Linked DNA regions of Homo sapiens: region 2 is linked to region 1. The links come from fine-mapping of genetic effects on gene expression. Tissue or cell type: whole blood. Region 1 holds a variant in brackets; the other region holds the start of a gene. All regions are shown on one strand. Distances are between the middles of the regions.

Evidence for each region. PIP is the estimated chance that this variant, and not a neighbour inherited with it, causes the effect.
Region 2: BTBD9 starts here. The variant in region 1 is fine-mapped to the expression of BTBD9 in whole blood (TOPMed, PIP 0.99).

Annotation. Positions count from the first base shown.
Region 1 is chr6:38,046,976-38,055,062 of GRCh38, forward strand. The region is part of intron 2 of ZFAND3 (zinc finger AN1-type containing 3); the gene reads left to right. Among named protein-coding and RNA genes, the nearest start is that of ZFAND3, 230 kb to the left of the region's middle. The variant G/T (reference allele first, on the strand shown) is at 3,843.
Region 2 is chr6:38,635,663-38,643,768 of GRCh38, forward strand. It overlaps BTBD9 (BTB domain containing 9), which reads right to left and starts at 4,267. Exons shown (of 11, transcript NM_001099272.2): 1 at 4,138-4,267. It overlaps LOC105375044 (a long non-coding RNA gene), which reads left to right and starts at 4,733. Exons shown (of 3, transcript XR_926767.4): 1 at 4,733-4,822. RefSeq lists a silencer at 3,930-4,129 and enhancers at 4,229-4,729, 4,530-4,609.

The DNA of each region.
Region 1 (8,087 bases):
AGAGCTAAAGTGTACTGATCTAGTATTATAATTAGTAATGGCTATATGTTTGAAATACGACTTCTGGCCAGGTGCGGTGGTTCACCCCTGTAATCCCAGCATTTTGGGAGGTATGCGGATCACTTGAGGTCAGGAGTTCAAGACCAGCCTGGCCAACATGGTGAAACCCCGTTTCTACTAAAAATACGAAAATTAGCTGAGTGGTGGCACACACTTGTAATCCCAGCTACTCAGGAGGCTGAGGCAGGAGAATCACTTGAACACAGGCGGCGGAGGTTGCAGTGAGCCAAGATCACGCCACTGCACTCCAGCCTGGGCAACAGAGGGAGACTCTGTCTCAAAAAAAAAAAAAAGAAAAGAAATATTACTTCTTTCAAACCCAATCTGACTTTTTCTTTGGCCCTTTTGGTCTGTGATCTGTGATGCTTTGCAGAATATAGTATCTTTATTCCTTTATCTGAGAGGGAAAATGTGCCTATATGCATATACAATATTGCATATAGTTTAATAAGATTACTCAAAATTACATGCAAAAGTTTTCTGTGCACACACACTATGAATCCCAGATTATTGTCCCCACATATTTGGTGCCCCTCCCAGTGTGAGGCTCATACTTCCCTGTCCTGATCATCAGGCTCAGCTACGTGACTTCTTTTAGCCAATAAAATGTTAATGAAAAATTTATTTGGCTTTTATGACCAGAAACTTTAAGAGCTGTTAGGTGGTTCCATTTCTCTTTTCCCTTTGCAGTGATACCAGCAGTGTTCCATTAAGGGCCACTCCTTCATTCTGGGTTCCTGGAATGAAGATACGTGGAGCAGAGCTGCTGTCTACCCTCAGTAGACCTATAATGTGATCAAAACAAATAAACCATTGTTATAAAGCCTGTAGATTATAGGGTCATTCGTTTTTGCAGGTAAATTAGCCTAAGCTGACTGATAATAAGAACCGTAGGTTAAGAAGATCTGTTCCAGACCTAGGTTTTTGGGTTTTTTTTGTTTTTTTTTTTTTTACTTTTTGTGTGTGTTTGTTTATTTATTTATTTTTGCGACAGGGTCTCACTCTGTTGTCCAGGCTGGAGTGCAGTGGTACAGTCATGGCTCATTGCAGCCTCACCCTCCCTGGGCTCAGGTGATCCTCCTACCTCAGCCTCCTGAGTAGCTGGGACTACAGGCGCGCACCATTATGCCTGGCCAATTTTTGTATTTTATGTAGATACAGGGTTTCGCCATGTCCAGGATGGTCTTGAACTCCTGAGCTCAAGCTATCTGCCCACCTCCGCCCCTCAAAGTGCTAGGATTACAGGCATGAGCCACCATGCCCGGCCCCAACATTTTTTTATTGGTCATTAAAAAATATATTCAGGCCGGGCGCGGTGGCTCACATCTGTAATCCCAGCACTTTGGGAGGCCGAGCCGGGCAGATCACGAGGTCAGGAGATCGAGACCATCCTGGCTAACATGGTGAAACCCCGTCTCTACTAAAAATACAAAAAAATTAGCCAGGTGTGGTGGCAGGCACCTATAGTCCGAGCTACTCGGGAGGCTGAGGCAGGAGAATGGCGTGAACCCAGGAGGTGGGGCTTGCAGTGAGCCGAGATCGCGCCACTGCACTCCAGCCTGGGTGACAGAGTGAGACTCCGTCTCAAAAAAAAAAAAATTCAATGCCTGTTTTATGAGGGGCAGCTGCATTATCTGCCATCCTCACAACAATCCTACACAGGTTTTAACGTTTTTGCAGTTGAGGAAACTGAAATAAAAGTAAGTAACTTTCTTATGGTCATGCAGTTTCTAAGTAGCTTAGGCAGGATTCAAACAGGTCTGTCTGATTCTTTGTGTATTATACCTCTAAACTTTCCTGTTTGTTCCTTGCATTTATTTCACATATATCTGATCAATCATTTCTTTACTGATATGCAGAATCAATAATGCAGTTTTCAAAACTTTTATATAATAAGTTCATTTGTCTCTGTTTAAATCAAGGGTCTTACATTTTTGGCTTTCAAGGCACAGACGTCTTGTATTTGGAGGTTTTTATTTTTTTTACATTTGAAATCACATGCCTTTAGGTGAGACTTACACTTGCCAGTTAGCCACAATGACTAGCACTCCCTGTTGTGTTAGGCCACCTAACTTCACACATTCATGATACCCACCTGGTCCCTGAAAACTTTCGTATTTGTATCCCCAGGATTGGCTTGTTAGTGTACATTGTTAATGAAGCCAAAGACTTCGCTATAATTCATACCAGAGAAATTATTTTCATTGCATTAGTCTCAAGCTAGCAACTTTTTAAGAAGTCGGAAGAGGAATAGCAATCATGGTTAATCCAAGATTTACTATATGTCAGGCACCGTTCTAAGACTTCCACATGTATTATCTGATCTGCAAAATAACTTTATTAGGTAGATAGTATTATTATTCTCATTTGTAGGGAGAAAACTAGAGCAAGAGAAGTTAAGTAACTTGCCCAAGGTTACACAGCAATTAAGAAATAGAGCCAGGATTTGAACTCAGGCAGTCTGGTTACACACACCCTACTGGGACAGAGGATATGTAGGTTAGTTGTGCATGAGCTTTTCTCACTAGTGGAGAAAGCTTTTGTATCAGTAGTTGATAGCCTTAATATGGAGATAGATACCTTTTAGGAATTGTGAATTATATAAACATCATGTATTCTGATACCTTGGATTCACTGGATAAAAATTAGTCAGTTAGCCCTAATCTTGGGAAGATCATTGTCATCTTCTCTGAACATCCCCCTGATATGCTTTAATAGATGTAAGAAGAAAGTGTTAGTAAGCCCATCATTTCATCCTTCAAAAAAATATATCTTAGAAGTTTGAACCACTACTTGGTCTTTTACTCTTTGGGAAAGAGATTGACTCTCCTCGCTCCCCCACCCCCACCCCCACCCCCTCCCCCTCACACCCACCCCGTCTTCATTCACCACTTTTGAGTAGGCAATTAATTTTTTTTTTTTTTTTTTTTTTTGGGGGAGACAGAGTCTCTCTCTGTCTCCCAGACTGTAGCACAGTGGTGCAATCTTGGCTTTCTGCAACTTCTGCATCCCAGGTTCAAGCAATTATCATGCGTCAGCCTCCTGAGTAGCTGGGATCACAGGTGCACGTCACCACGCCTGGCTGATTTTTGTATTTTTAGTAGAGATAGGGTTTCACCGTGTTGCCCAGGCTGGTCTTAAACTCCTGACCTCAGTTGATCCACCCACCTCGGCCTTCCAAAGTGCTGGGATTACAAGCGTGAGTCACCGTGCCTGGCCAAGAAGGCAATTCATTCTTTGCTTCTTTTTCCCCTTCTAGAGATGGAGTTTTGAGATGTTACCTAGGCTGGCCTGGAACTCCTGGGCTCAAGCAATCCTCCTACCTCAGCCTTTCTAGTAGCCAGGTGATATGGTTTGGCTGTGTCCCCACCCAAATCTCATCTTGAATTGTAGTTCCCATAATCCCCACATCATGCTGGTGGGAGGTAATTGTATCATGCGGGCGGTTACCCCCATGCCGTTCTCGTGAAAGTGAGTGAGTTCCCATGAGATCTGATGGTTTTATAAGGAACTTTTCCCTGTTTGCTTGGCACTTCTCTCCTGCCACCTTGTGTAGAAGGACATGTTTGCTTCCCCTTCTGCCATGATTCTAAGTTTCCTGAGGCCTTCCCATCCATGTGAAACTGTGAGTCAATTAAACCTCTTTTCTTTATAAGTTACCCAGTCTTGGGTATTTCTTCATAGCAGCATGAGAACGGACTAATACCCTGGGACTATAGGCGTGCACCACTGTGCCCAGCTGACATTCTTAAAATATAACATATTGTATTTCTTGAATTTAA[G/T]CTGAACATTTGCAAGTTTTATCTTAAGGGAAAACGTGTCTCAAAAGTTAATATCACCACTCTAAGTTGAATTTACTGAAACAGATGCAGTGGTCAGCTTAGTAGCAGAGCTTAAATGAAGGAGACCTGAAGATTGGTGGTGTGTGACCCTGGTAGGAGATGATGAGGCTGAGAACTGAGTAGAAATACTCAGGGAGTATTGAGGGAGTATTTAGGGGTAGGAATAGCCCCTTAAGTCAGGAGCTGCCTTTGTGAATAGAGGGAAGCAAGAACGAATAGGACCAGATTGTAAGAGCATACATAGGTGGGCAAGAGCAGTCCCACCACCGCTCTACCCAGTCCCACCACCTAGGCTTTTCCCAGTCCCACCACCATCCTCTCCCTCAAAAGAGAGGTGCAGTGGGAATTATTTTTTTGTCTTTTCTCCTGTCACATCTGCATGGTAAAATGAAAGGCTAATAGCATTAGGACTGTGGATACAATTATAGAAATAATCAGTGATCTAAAAAGGGGGGTGCTAACCTGCTGTTTTTGCTAATTTATTCCCAAATACTTTTCTACTTTTCTATTCTGTTGTCATTGAAGTCTTTATGGGACATTTAAAGCCTTAGGTCTGGGGTAAAATATTGCAGCCTCCAGCCTCTCCAGCAGTTACGTTCATGCCACTTCTGTGCCATTGGAGTAATTCATGAATGACACTAAGGACTAATGGCTTGAGGGGAAGTCTTTAGATTATACCAAGGATCAACTGTAAACAAAGAGAAGTTTTTTGTTTTGTTTTTAGGCTCCAACTTGCCTATTTTATTTTGTCAGCTTTACCCAGTTTTTCCACAATATGCCAAACCCTATCTGTAATTTTGATGGCTGAACTGTATGTATATATGCGCACACAGCATAAAGTGCATATTTTGTTAGAACTAGATTAATGCCACAATATTCAGAAAACTTCTCCCTGTGTTTTCAAAAAATTGACATATTTTGTGGTTAGACTGAAATGAGGTAAATGTACATGTTATTGTAGTACTAATGGATTGTTAGATATTTGCTGTAATGTTAACAGTTAATTTATGCCCTGTAAATGAATATTGAATATGAAACACTGTTACAGGGAAAACTGTATAGTCTGCACAATAAATGCTGTATAGGAAACAAGCCTTACTCCAAATAATTTTTTTTGCTAGTTCACACCTCTGAGTAGTTGGCTCTATAGGTGTGAAGAATCTAGAGAATGTATAATTTCAGTGATAAACTAGATTATAAAGTAAGTTTAATTGCTGAAAAGAGTAAGCTTTGCCAGCTTCATATATTCTCTTGTTGCCTGTTTTTGCAAGACACATTTCAGGATATGCTTTTGGGAGCCAATCTAATGTTACCTGTATTTGCCTCTCGTAAAAATCTTAAGCTTTGTGATTTAAATCTAAGCAAGCAGGAAGTGACTTGAGAGACCTTGTAAGTCCTGTTAGGACCAGTTATCCATGATGAATAATAAGGAAGAAATTTTTATATGTGTGGGGATAATTTATGAAATCCAAACATCTACTTATTGACAGGGTGCTTAATATTTCTCCTGTAGGTAGGAGCACTCTTGCTTCCTATAAATACATTTTGTAGCAATTTAAAATCCATTTTAAATTGTCTGTAAGAGAATTAATATTTTTCAACTTTGTGTGTTCATCAGTATCCAATACGCTAAATTCAGCAAATTTATATTATGTATTATGTGGCAGGCATTTTGCTAGGGGCTGAGGCACACTGTGAATAAGACATTCATTTATCCAACAAATATTTAATAAAGTACCTTCTATGGGTAATCTTAAGGACTTCCCTTAGGAAGTAGTGCTTATATTAAGAGTTCAAATATGAGTAGGATTTACCAAGGTGAATATGAGGATAAAAAAATCTCCCACGTGTCATGATTAAAGCACTCCATGTTGACCGCCGGGCGTGGTGGCTCACGCCTGTAATCCCAGAGTGATTACAGGCACGAGGCTGAGGCAGGGAGATCATTTGAGATCAGGAGTTCGAGCCTGGCCAACATAGTGAAACCTTGTCTCTACTAAAAACACAAAACTTAGGTGTGGTGGTGCACGCCTGCAATCCCAGCTACTTGGGTGGCCAAAGCAGGAGAATTGCTCGAACCCGGGAGGCGGAGGTTGCAGTAAGCCAAGATCGTGCCACTGCACTCTAGCCTGGGCGACAGCGCAAGACTCCATTTCGAAAAAAAAAAAAAAGAAAAAGAAAAAAAAAATAGCACTTCGTGTTGAGAAAGAGCATGGAGTGTCTGAAAAACCAAGAGCACTGGAGATGGCTAAAGCAAGGAGAGGGAGAGGAGGAGCAGTGGCATCAAATGTGGCTGAAGAAATAGCTAGTAGCTGGTTCTAAGTTCTAAGCCATGGTTAGGATTCTGGATCTGGTTGTGAAGGCAATGAGAGACCATTGAAGGGTTTAGGCAGGGAGGTGATGTTATCAGAATTTGTTTTCTTACAATTTTTTTTTTTTTTTGCAATCATTGTGGTTGCTTTGTGGAGAGTAGATCAGACTGAGCCGAGAGAGGACACAAAGATTTCAATTAAGATGTTATCGAGTCTGGGCATGGTGTCTCATTCCTGTAATCCCAGCACTTTGGAAAGCCAAGGCAGGCAGATTGCTTGAGGCTGGAAGTTCGAGACCAGCTTGGCCATCATGGTGAAACCCTGTCTCTACTAAAAATACAAAAATTAGCCACACGTGGTGTTGCACACTGGTAGTTGCAGCTACTCGGGAGGCTGAGGCATGAGAATCGCTTGAACCGAAGAGGCTTGAACTCAGGATGCCAAGGTTGCAGTGAGCCGAGATTGCACCACTACATTCCAGCCTGGATGGCAGAGTGAGACTCTGTCTCAAAATAAAAAAGATGCTATCAAAGGAATCTTATAGATGATGATGGCTTAGACTACAGTGGTAATGGAGAAATAGATGGATTCAAGAGATATTTAGGAGTTGTAAATGACTAGAATGGTAATTTGGGGGATACAAAATTAAGAAGGGAGAATGTGAAGTTCAAGATAATTCCTGGCTTCTGACTATTCTCTATGTGAATGTTGATATCATCTGATGAGATGGGAGGAAGGGCAGAAGACAAGGTCTATTTTTTTTTTTGAGGTATTACTCAAATTGCAGATTCATGGACATAAATAGGGAACATAGGATAGGAGTCATTTATCATCATTAGGATATATACAGGTAGAGGTGTGTGTGTGTATATTGTATGTATATATTTTTAACTTATTTGAAAGGACATAGGCTGAGCATGGTGGCTTACACCTGTAATCCTGGCACTTTGAGATACCAAGGTGGGAGGATCTCTTGAGCCCAGGAGTTTGAGACCAGCTTGGGCAACATAGTGAGACTCCATCTCTATCAAAAAAAAAAAAAAAAAAAATTTAAGGTAGCTCGGTGTGGTGGTGTGCACCTATAGTCCCAGCTACTCAGGAGGCTGAGGTGGGAGCGTCACTTGGGCCCAGGAAGTCGAGGCTGCAGTGAGCCATGTGTGTGCCACTGCACTCCAGCCTGGGTGACAGAGCGAGACCCTGTCTCAAATTAAAAAAAAAAAAAAAACAAGGAAGCACACAAAAACCGTGCAGTGTTATTCAGTCTGTCTATTCTGAGATCAGTGAAGAGAGTCTGATTTTTTAAATTAATAAAAATAATTTTTGAAAGAGAAAAAAATAATAAAAATAATTTTTTTTAAAAAAGAAGATAGTCTGATTTTTAAAGAGAAGGAATCGCCATGAGAGGTTGGGTGAGAATCTGATAGGTAAAGGCGTTTTGCTTTTGCTTTTTAAAGAAGCTAGAAGATAATATTCATGAAAGGACACCTAAGTAAACTTAGCCACATTCAATAGCTCACAAGTCCACATAAGCTACAACATATGCATAAGGTGATAAGGTTTTCATAGTAACCAAGTCCATAAGTGCATTGGTTCTTGCTAACTCCTGTTTAAACAGTTTATTCTTGCTGAGGCTGTTAACCCAGATTAACATCCAACTACCAGAATTTTATTAAGATTTTAATCAGAAGGCTAGAAGTCTGGTTTATGAATTGGCTGGCTACTAATGGCTTTGTAGCTTTTTAAAATAAGATATTTAAGTTTTGCGGTTGAGATGGGGGTGGGGGACAATGCAGCTTTAGAAAACTAGAAATGTTTCTATGAACGGAAGCTGTAGCCTATTATGGACATAAATTGGGTGGAGAGGGGATGGTGA
Region 2 (8,106 bases), 590 kb after region 1:
TGATGCCTTCTGCCATGTTATGACACAGCAAGAAGGCCCTCACCAGATACTGGCACATTGATCTGGGACTTCCTAGCCTCCAGAACTATCAGGAAATAAATTTCTGTTCTTTATAAATTAACCAGACTGTTCTTTATAAATTAAACTTAGATCAGTTCTTGTCTTAGTTTGTTTTGTGCTGCCATTATGAAACATAAAATATGAAATAGCAGCACAAAACAAAGACAAGAACTGATCCAAGTTTAAATACTGATTTAAACGTCCAAAAGTTCCATTCACCATCTTTTCCAGTTCTCACTCTCCATTTTTCTGGCATTGGGGCCTCTCCTACTATCTCTACATCTATAACTACTACTAACAATAACAGCAACAGCTGCCATTTATTATATTAAGCATCTATAAGACAGGCATTGTGTTAATCACTGTGCACATAGTACCTTTGTGTTAATCACTGTGCACATGTATAATCTCCACAATTCTTTAATTCAGATAAGAAGCCTAGGCTTAGAGAAGTTAAATAACTTGCCAAAGGTCAGCCAACCAATAAACAGCATAACAGAGATTTGACCTGCCATCTTCCTAACTCCAAAGTCCACTAAGTTAACTACTATACTAACATGCCTCCTAGAAGGTTGCTACTCCCACAGCCTCAGCGGACATCTATATTACAATTGTCCCTAACCATCTCATAAACTCTGAAGTAGCATTTCCAGTTACTTAGTGGATCTCTCTTTTTAAACTCCCCACAGAAACCTCAGAATTAACACTGCCATTATTTCTTCTCTCCACTTCAAACCTGTTCCTCTTCCTGTGATTTCTAACTTAATGTCATCATAAGCAAACAGTTGCTCAAACTAGACATATTATCTTTGACTTCTCACTCTCCCTTACCTCTAGCTGGTCATAAATGTAGAGATTTTAACATCTAAAAATGTCTCCAAAATCTATCCATTCCCATTGTCCAACATTTCTCACCTACACTCTAGTCTCCCTGCCTCTCTACTCTAATGCAATCTGCACACGAACTGTCAACTTTCTGATTATTCTACCTTCTATGGCTCTCCACTGCCAATGGATGGGAGGAGTCTAGACTTTTTAGGATGAAGTGGAAGACCCCCTCATAATTTGGCTCCAAAAACAGCTTCCTGCCTCATCACTTCCCCCATGCAATAAGAAGTGATTAGGCCCTCATGAATGGATGAATGCCATTATAGCAGGAATGGGTTCATTATCTCAGGAATGGGTTCTTGAGATGAGTTCAGCCCTCTCCCCTCTCTTGCCCACAAGAAACAACTCAAGATATTTCCAAAAGCGCTATTTAATTTTAATATTCAGCAACTTTGCTTATGCTGGCCCCTGGAATGCTCTCTTCCACCTCTACATGTGGCGAAATTTTATTTAACCCTCAGAGCTAAGCTCCATCCCCTTCTTCTCAACATGTTCCCTATCAGTTTTTTCTCCAGCCAAAGCACTCTACTCCCCCAGCACATTATTCATTCCAAAAGTGATTAATTTGTCACAGCACATAATGGTTAGTGGTTTATCTCTTCTGATGAACACTTAGTATGCTGAGCATATACTGTGTCTTAACTTCTTTGTCTTCCCAGCACCCAACGAAGTGTCTCGCCATAGCCAGCACCCAGTAAGTATCTGCTGAGTTGTTAAATAATGCAACATTTGCAGTTGTAACTTTACACATCTTGGTTAGCAATTCAACTTCAGGTTTACATACCACTCAAAAGAATTTTCACATAACAGAAGATGTTATAAATAAAGACCAAGGGTTCAATATTCAGCAGCAGGGTCTTTAATTATTCTGAAATCTCTTTGGTCAGTATTTTTAAGCATCGTTCATCAGAAAGACTCCTTTCCCAACTAACATTTGTATATTTTACAGGATCAGCAGTAAAGACAAACCTCAGAGAGATAATCCCAAGCAAAACTATGTCACTGAGTGTGACTGGATGACTATTGGTACATCATTTCAGTAAATTTCCAATACAATGGCCCAAGTACATCAGGTAGATTTTAGATAATGAGACATGCACCACTGACTACCTAAAATACATGCACATTAGTGAGGCATCGATTCCAATTAGTAATTGAAATCAAAAGTATATTAACAACCTGATATTGGTTCAAGCGTAATATCCTTTACTTTCAAGTAAGGATAACACTTATTCTTGTCAAAGACTGTACTCTGATTAATACAACCTCTATCCCACCTTACAAGAAGGCTGTATCTTGTTAACAGTGGGATGCTGATAAGCCCGCCTTAATCCTTAACACTTTGCCTTCCCAACCTGCTAAGCCATCTCTCTCCAGTATTCCCCTATAAGAGACGTTCCGCTCCAGTTACCAGACATAAAAGTCGTCTTGGTATATCCTCCAACAACCAAATTCACATTATTATTTTCTCAGCTCCTGGTTTATTTCCTAACAAATTTTAACTTCTTTCAGAGACCAAGTCAAATCTTGCCTCTTTCAAAGAGTTCCCTAACTCAGCCTACACATCCTATCTTTTCTGATTTTCTACCACATTTATAGTCCTCAAACAGCACTGGTTACCTGCTACTTAACTTGGTTTTATAATTATTTTATACATCTCCTAGCTAGACTACTGCTCTCAAAGGGAAAAAAAAGACAGGTCTTCTATGTCATTTTTCACTCCATAATCCTCCTCCCACACCTATCATGATACTGGGCAGAGGGAGGCACATGTATTAAGTACTTGATGGACTGAACTCAATGCTTTCTATACATAGATACACCACTTGAGCATAGTGTGCTATATAACAAATATCCATTGCATGCCTACTCTGTGGCAAGCACATTTTTCCTATGTGTTAGACATAGGGCAAGGAGGAAAACACAGATGACTCCTGTCCTAAAAGCTATTACAGTGGAGGGAGGAAGACACTTTGAATTCCGAGTAATCTAATAAGTGTTACAAAGCAAGGTTATTACTGGTTCCAAGAGGTAACATACTTTACAGATTCTCAGTTATGAAACAGAATCATAGAATTTTAGACCTAAATGAGAACCTTGAACTTATTTTCCTCTATCCTCTTACACAAAACATTAGATTTCAGTACAGCCTATCTTTTCACTGGTTCTACAAATTGCCTTAATCAACAGAAAGAAAAGACTGGCTTCTTCCCTGTCTCCAATATTCCTCGCTCCCAAGTATGGTAACCACAACCCCTATACATCTACCCATGATAGAGTCCAGAGCACTGAGAAGACAGCACAGGGCTGAGGATGAGCTACACCTTTACATGCTGGGTTCTCCCATCATCAACACTTTCCGCCCACACAGTGAACAGAATCCGTATTTTCTGCCCAGAAAATAGCAGCCTGTACTGCCTTTAGGAAAAACAAACAAAACATGCTTCCATACTTCCTTGGATCTACTAATGACAAAAGCACAACACGGTTCTGGGAAATATAGCAAGATAACTAAGTCTATGAGGAAGTAAGAAATGAGGATGCCTATCAGCACCTTGGTCTCAAAATCTGTAACAACAATGTACTAAAACGCCAAGGAAACACATGCACATACATGTGAAGTTAGAAACTCTAGGCAACAGGTTGGCTGCCCCGGATCTATACTGACAGGTCGCCCTCCCAAGGTCGTGGGTGTGTCTGATGCCGCACGCAGGCACTGATTCACAACTCTCTCCATAACAACCAGCTCCTACTCAGAGGCTGGCCAGGGCAGGGGAGATGAGGGCCCCAGCAGTCCCAAACTTTCCAAACCCCCACCCCGGGGTCCCGGGTTTCGCCTCCTCAGTCCCAGGCAACGTCGTCTCAGACAGGATACGAGACTGCTAGGGAACCTGGGCTGCCCCTGATTCGAACTCCTCTCTTTGGGAGGCTGGTAGAGCCACCCCGAATCCCCGAAACGTCTACTTCCCACTACACCTTCGTGGACTGCGAACGGGACGGCTACCGCTCTCCCAGAGCACCCGGGCCCAAGAAATGACCCTCGTCAGGCCCCGTCCCAGCTCCTCCCCCGCCCCCGGAAAAAGCGGCGGAGGGGCGGGGGGCGGTGCGCGCGGATACGGCGGGGGCGCGCGTCCCCGCGCCGCAGGTGCGGCCAGGCCCCACCTCCCCTGCAAGGACCCGGCTACTCACCCCAGCGATGCTCCTCTGAGACCAAGCTGCGACACAGACGCCTCTTCCGCCCGCTCCGCACCCCTCTCTGCGCCACCGCCCCCTTGGCCGCTTCCGTGGCCGCCGTCCTCGCCGCCGCCCCGGCTGCTGCGGCGCGCGTCCGCTTTCACGCACTCCGCCGTGGCCGCGCACGCGCCACTGCGCGCTGGCGTCACTTAGCAACCGATCGACAGCGGGCTGCTGGGTCCGGCGATGCAGGCCCAGAAAGTCGCCTAAGGCAGCTTCCGCGGCTTTTTCGCATCGGCCCGACCCTCTGCCCCTCCAGAACAGGGGGCCCCAGGGTGTGGCTGCCCTGCCGGCACCTGGCTCCGGGTAAGTCGAGTCACCACACGTCACTGTATGGCGTCACCGGCGCACGTCACTACGGATGAGAAGGTCCTGGGCGCCTGTGGAGTGACCTCGTCCAGACCGCCGCAGACCCGATCGGCAAGTTCTTGGAGGTGCAGGAAGGTTCTCCAAGGAGTAGGACCAGAAAGGGATGAGAGCGCGAGCGCGGTTAATGTCGAGGCTGCTAAGTGATGCTCGTTAATTTCGCAGCAGGGTGTGACTGGCCCAGCCTTGACTCTCAGTTTCCTCTCTCAGTAAATGGGCATAATAATACCGGTCCAGCCTACGCTGGAGAATTGTGAGGTGAAAATGAAATAAGGTATGCAAAGGTACTTTGTAAGTATAAAGCCCATTTGACTTGGTGGCTCAAGCCTGTAATCCCAGCACTTTGGGAGGCCGAGGTGGGCGGATCGCTTGAGCTCAGGAGTTCGACACCAGCCTGGGTAACATAGTGAAACCCCGTCTCTACAAAAAAGACAAAAACTAAATGGGCATGTTGGCGCGCGCCTGTAGTCACAAATGCTCGGGGGGCTGAGGTGGGAGGATCGCTTGAACCTGGGGAGTTCAAGATTGCAGTGAACCGTGATCGCGCCGCTGCACTCCAGCCTCTGCAGTGAGAGCAAGACACTGTCTCAAAAAAATGTATTTATCTATCTACATAGATAAGAGTCCTAGAAATCCGGGTGCAGGTCTGACTGTAGCTGGTGTAGGAAAGTCAGTTATCCCCGACGCTGGAGCAAGCTAGGGGACCGCCCTTGCAGTTGTTGGAGGAGACAAATTGGGAAGGACTTAATTCCGGGCAAAGGAAGCTTCATGAGTAAAAGTAGAAAGTGAAAATGGTCAGGAAAAGCAAGGCTTGGGGCAGGGAGACCCATTTTTAGGCCATTGCAGTACTCCAGACAAGTGATAAGAACATTAAACAAGGCATTGGCAGTGGGAATAGAGGAGGGGATAGATGTTAGCGCCATTAAGGTGGTAGAATTCACAGCACTGAGTGCGGATAAATGAGTAGGCCAGGTTTCTAGCATGAGTGCTGAGGTAGACAGTGGTAACATTTAGCAAGATGGCAAGCTACATGAGTCTTGATTATCCACAAGTGTCTAAGTTACTATTATAGATAGTGATGGTGACATTTCTTAGGAGGATGACCAGATATGTGGAGTATGATGATGAGTTCAAATATGGATATGTTTGTTAGGGAAACATTTACTCTCCATTCACAATGTCTTTCTTCCATATGGAATGATATCCATTAGTGTAATACTCTCCTGGTTTCTCTTATACCTGTCTGCAACTCACTCTTGCCTAGAGGAGTGACTTCCTGATTGGTGAACTTAAATGGGAGAAACTGGACATGTGGCATCTATCCCATTCTTTTTCTCTTAAAAGATAACTATCTTCAGGGAACTGTCCTGGTGTTCTTTTCCGTTTCTTCTGGAGCAGGGCCTGTGGGTAGGGACAAGGGTGCCTAGTCCAGGGCTACAAAGAGAGTATATGTATTTAATTCCAGAGTTTGGCATTAGGAAGCTGTCTGTCCACAGATAATATTTAATACCAGCTTTGTCAGCTGTGTTACACAGAATAATGATCCCCCCCAACCAAAAAAAAAAGGATGACCACACCCTAATACTCAGAACCCATGAATATGTTATATTATGTGGCAAAAGGGACTTTGCAGATATGATTAAATGATGTATCTAGGGAGATTATCCTGGATTGTCTGACTGGGCTGGAGGCAGGAGGGTCAGAGTCAGAGAAGGAGATGTGATGATGGAAGCAGAGGTCAGACAGAGATTTGAAGATGCTATACTGTTGGCTTTGAAGATGGACCCAAGAAACGCAAGCAAATTGTAGATGCGGGAGAAGGCAAGGAAATGGATTCTTCTCTAGCACCCTAAGAACACAGCCCTGCCAACACCTTGATTTTAGGACTTCTGACTTCTAGAACTGCGAGATAAGAAACTTGTATGTTTTAAGGTACCAAGTTTGTGCTAACTTGTTACAACAGCAATAGGAAACTGATACAGTCAGTAATAAAGATAATAGTTGGTTTCCTGCAGCTTTCTCCATTACCTGGAAAAGAAGGGTACAATTCAGTAGGTCCCCTCAGAGACTATAGCAATATGACTGTGACCTGATGGAACCTCCACATCTAGAGAAAAATGTCCAATAAACACTCAAACTGTACAGGTCTATGAATGAGGAAAGAGGTTGAGTTAAAATAGATTTGGAAGAAATAAATTAATAATTGGTAATTTAAGCCCGAGGCATGGATGAGATCAATCAGGGAGAAAATACAGAAGACATAATAAGGAGAGGCAAGGATAGGGCCCCTGGAGAGCACTAACTTTAAAAGGAGGTGCAGATGATCAGAAGCCCAAAAAGAAGTCTGAGGAAGAATGGCCAGAGAGAGAAAAGGAGAACTAGGTGAGCCTAATGCCTCTGAAGCCAAGCAAGCAAGATGGAGAGGGGTCAACAGAGTCAGAGACCACAAAAAGGCCAAGTATATCAAGAACTGGAAAGCATTCACTGGATTTAGCAACAGAAAAGTGATTGGTAACCAACAATAGCAAACTTCAGTGGGATAGTGGAGATAGATACCAAATCACTGAGATCTGAAAGGCAGATCAATATAGTGGATTGGCCTCTAGACTAGTTTGATGGGAGTTTTGAGATTCTAGTCTTGATTCTGGCCATTAACTAGCTAGATAACTTTGAACAAATCCCTCAACTACTCCAGGCTTTGGTTTTCGCATCTGGCAAAGGATGAGATCAAGCTGAGTCTATGATTTTCTCATTAATTCCTAGATAATCCCCCCAGTTTTATTTTTTTATTTTTTGTCATATCTGATTCAATACTTTTATTTATTTTTATTTTTTATTTTTGAGACAGCATCTTGCTCTGTTGCCCAGTGTGGAGTGCAGTGGTACAATCTTGGCTCACTGCAGCCTCAACCCCCGGGCTCAATCACCCCAATTTCATATCAGACTCACTTGCTTATAACAGCACACTTCAAATCCTTCTCAGACCATTTTCCAACCACTAAGAATCAGTATATTTCATGCCAGCTTCTGTCCTAGATACTATGGCTATAACACAGTTTTCAAGGAACTCACAATTTGGAGAGAGAGAGAGAAATACTAAGTATGTAACTAGCTGTCATAGTTCTTTAAAAAAAAAAAAAGAAAAAAAAGTAAGGCCAGGCGCGGTGGCTTATGCCTGTAATCCTAGCACTTTGGGAGGCCGAGGCGGGTAGATCACCTGAGGTCAAGAGTTTGAGATCAGCCTGACCAATATGATGAAAACCCGTCTCTACTGAAAATACAAAAATTAGCCGGGCATGGTGGCATATGCCATCATCCCAGCTACTCAGGAGGCTGAGACAGGAGAATCACTTGAATCCGGGAGGCAGAGGTTGTGTAGAGCCAAGATCTCGCCATTGGACTCCAGCCTGGGCAACAAGAGCAAAACTCTGTCTCAAAAAAAAAATTAAAATAAGTAAATAAATAAAAATAAAAAATAATAAGATAGACCTGATTGTGGTGGCTCATGCCCCGTAATCCCAGTGCTTTGGAAGGCCAAAATGGGAAGATCACCTGAGG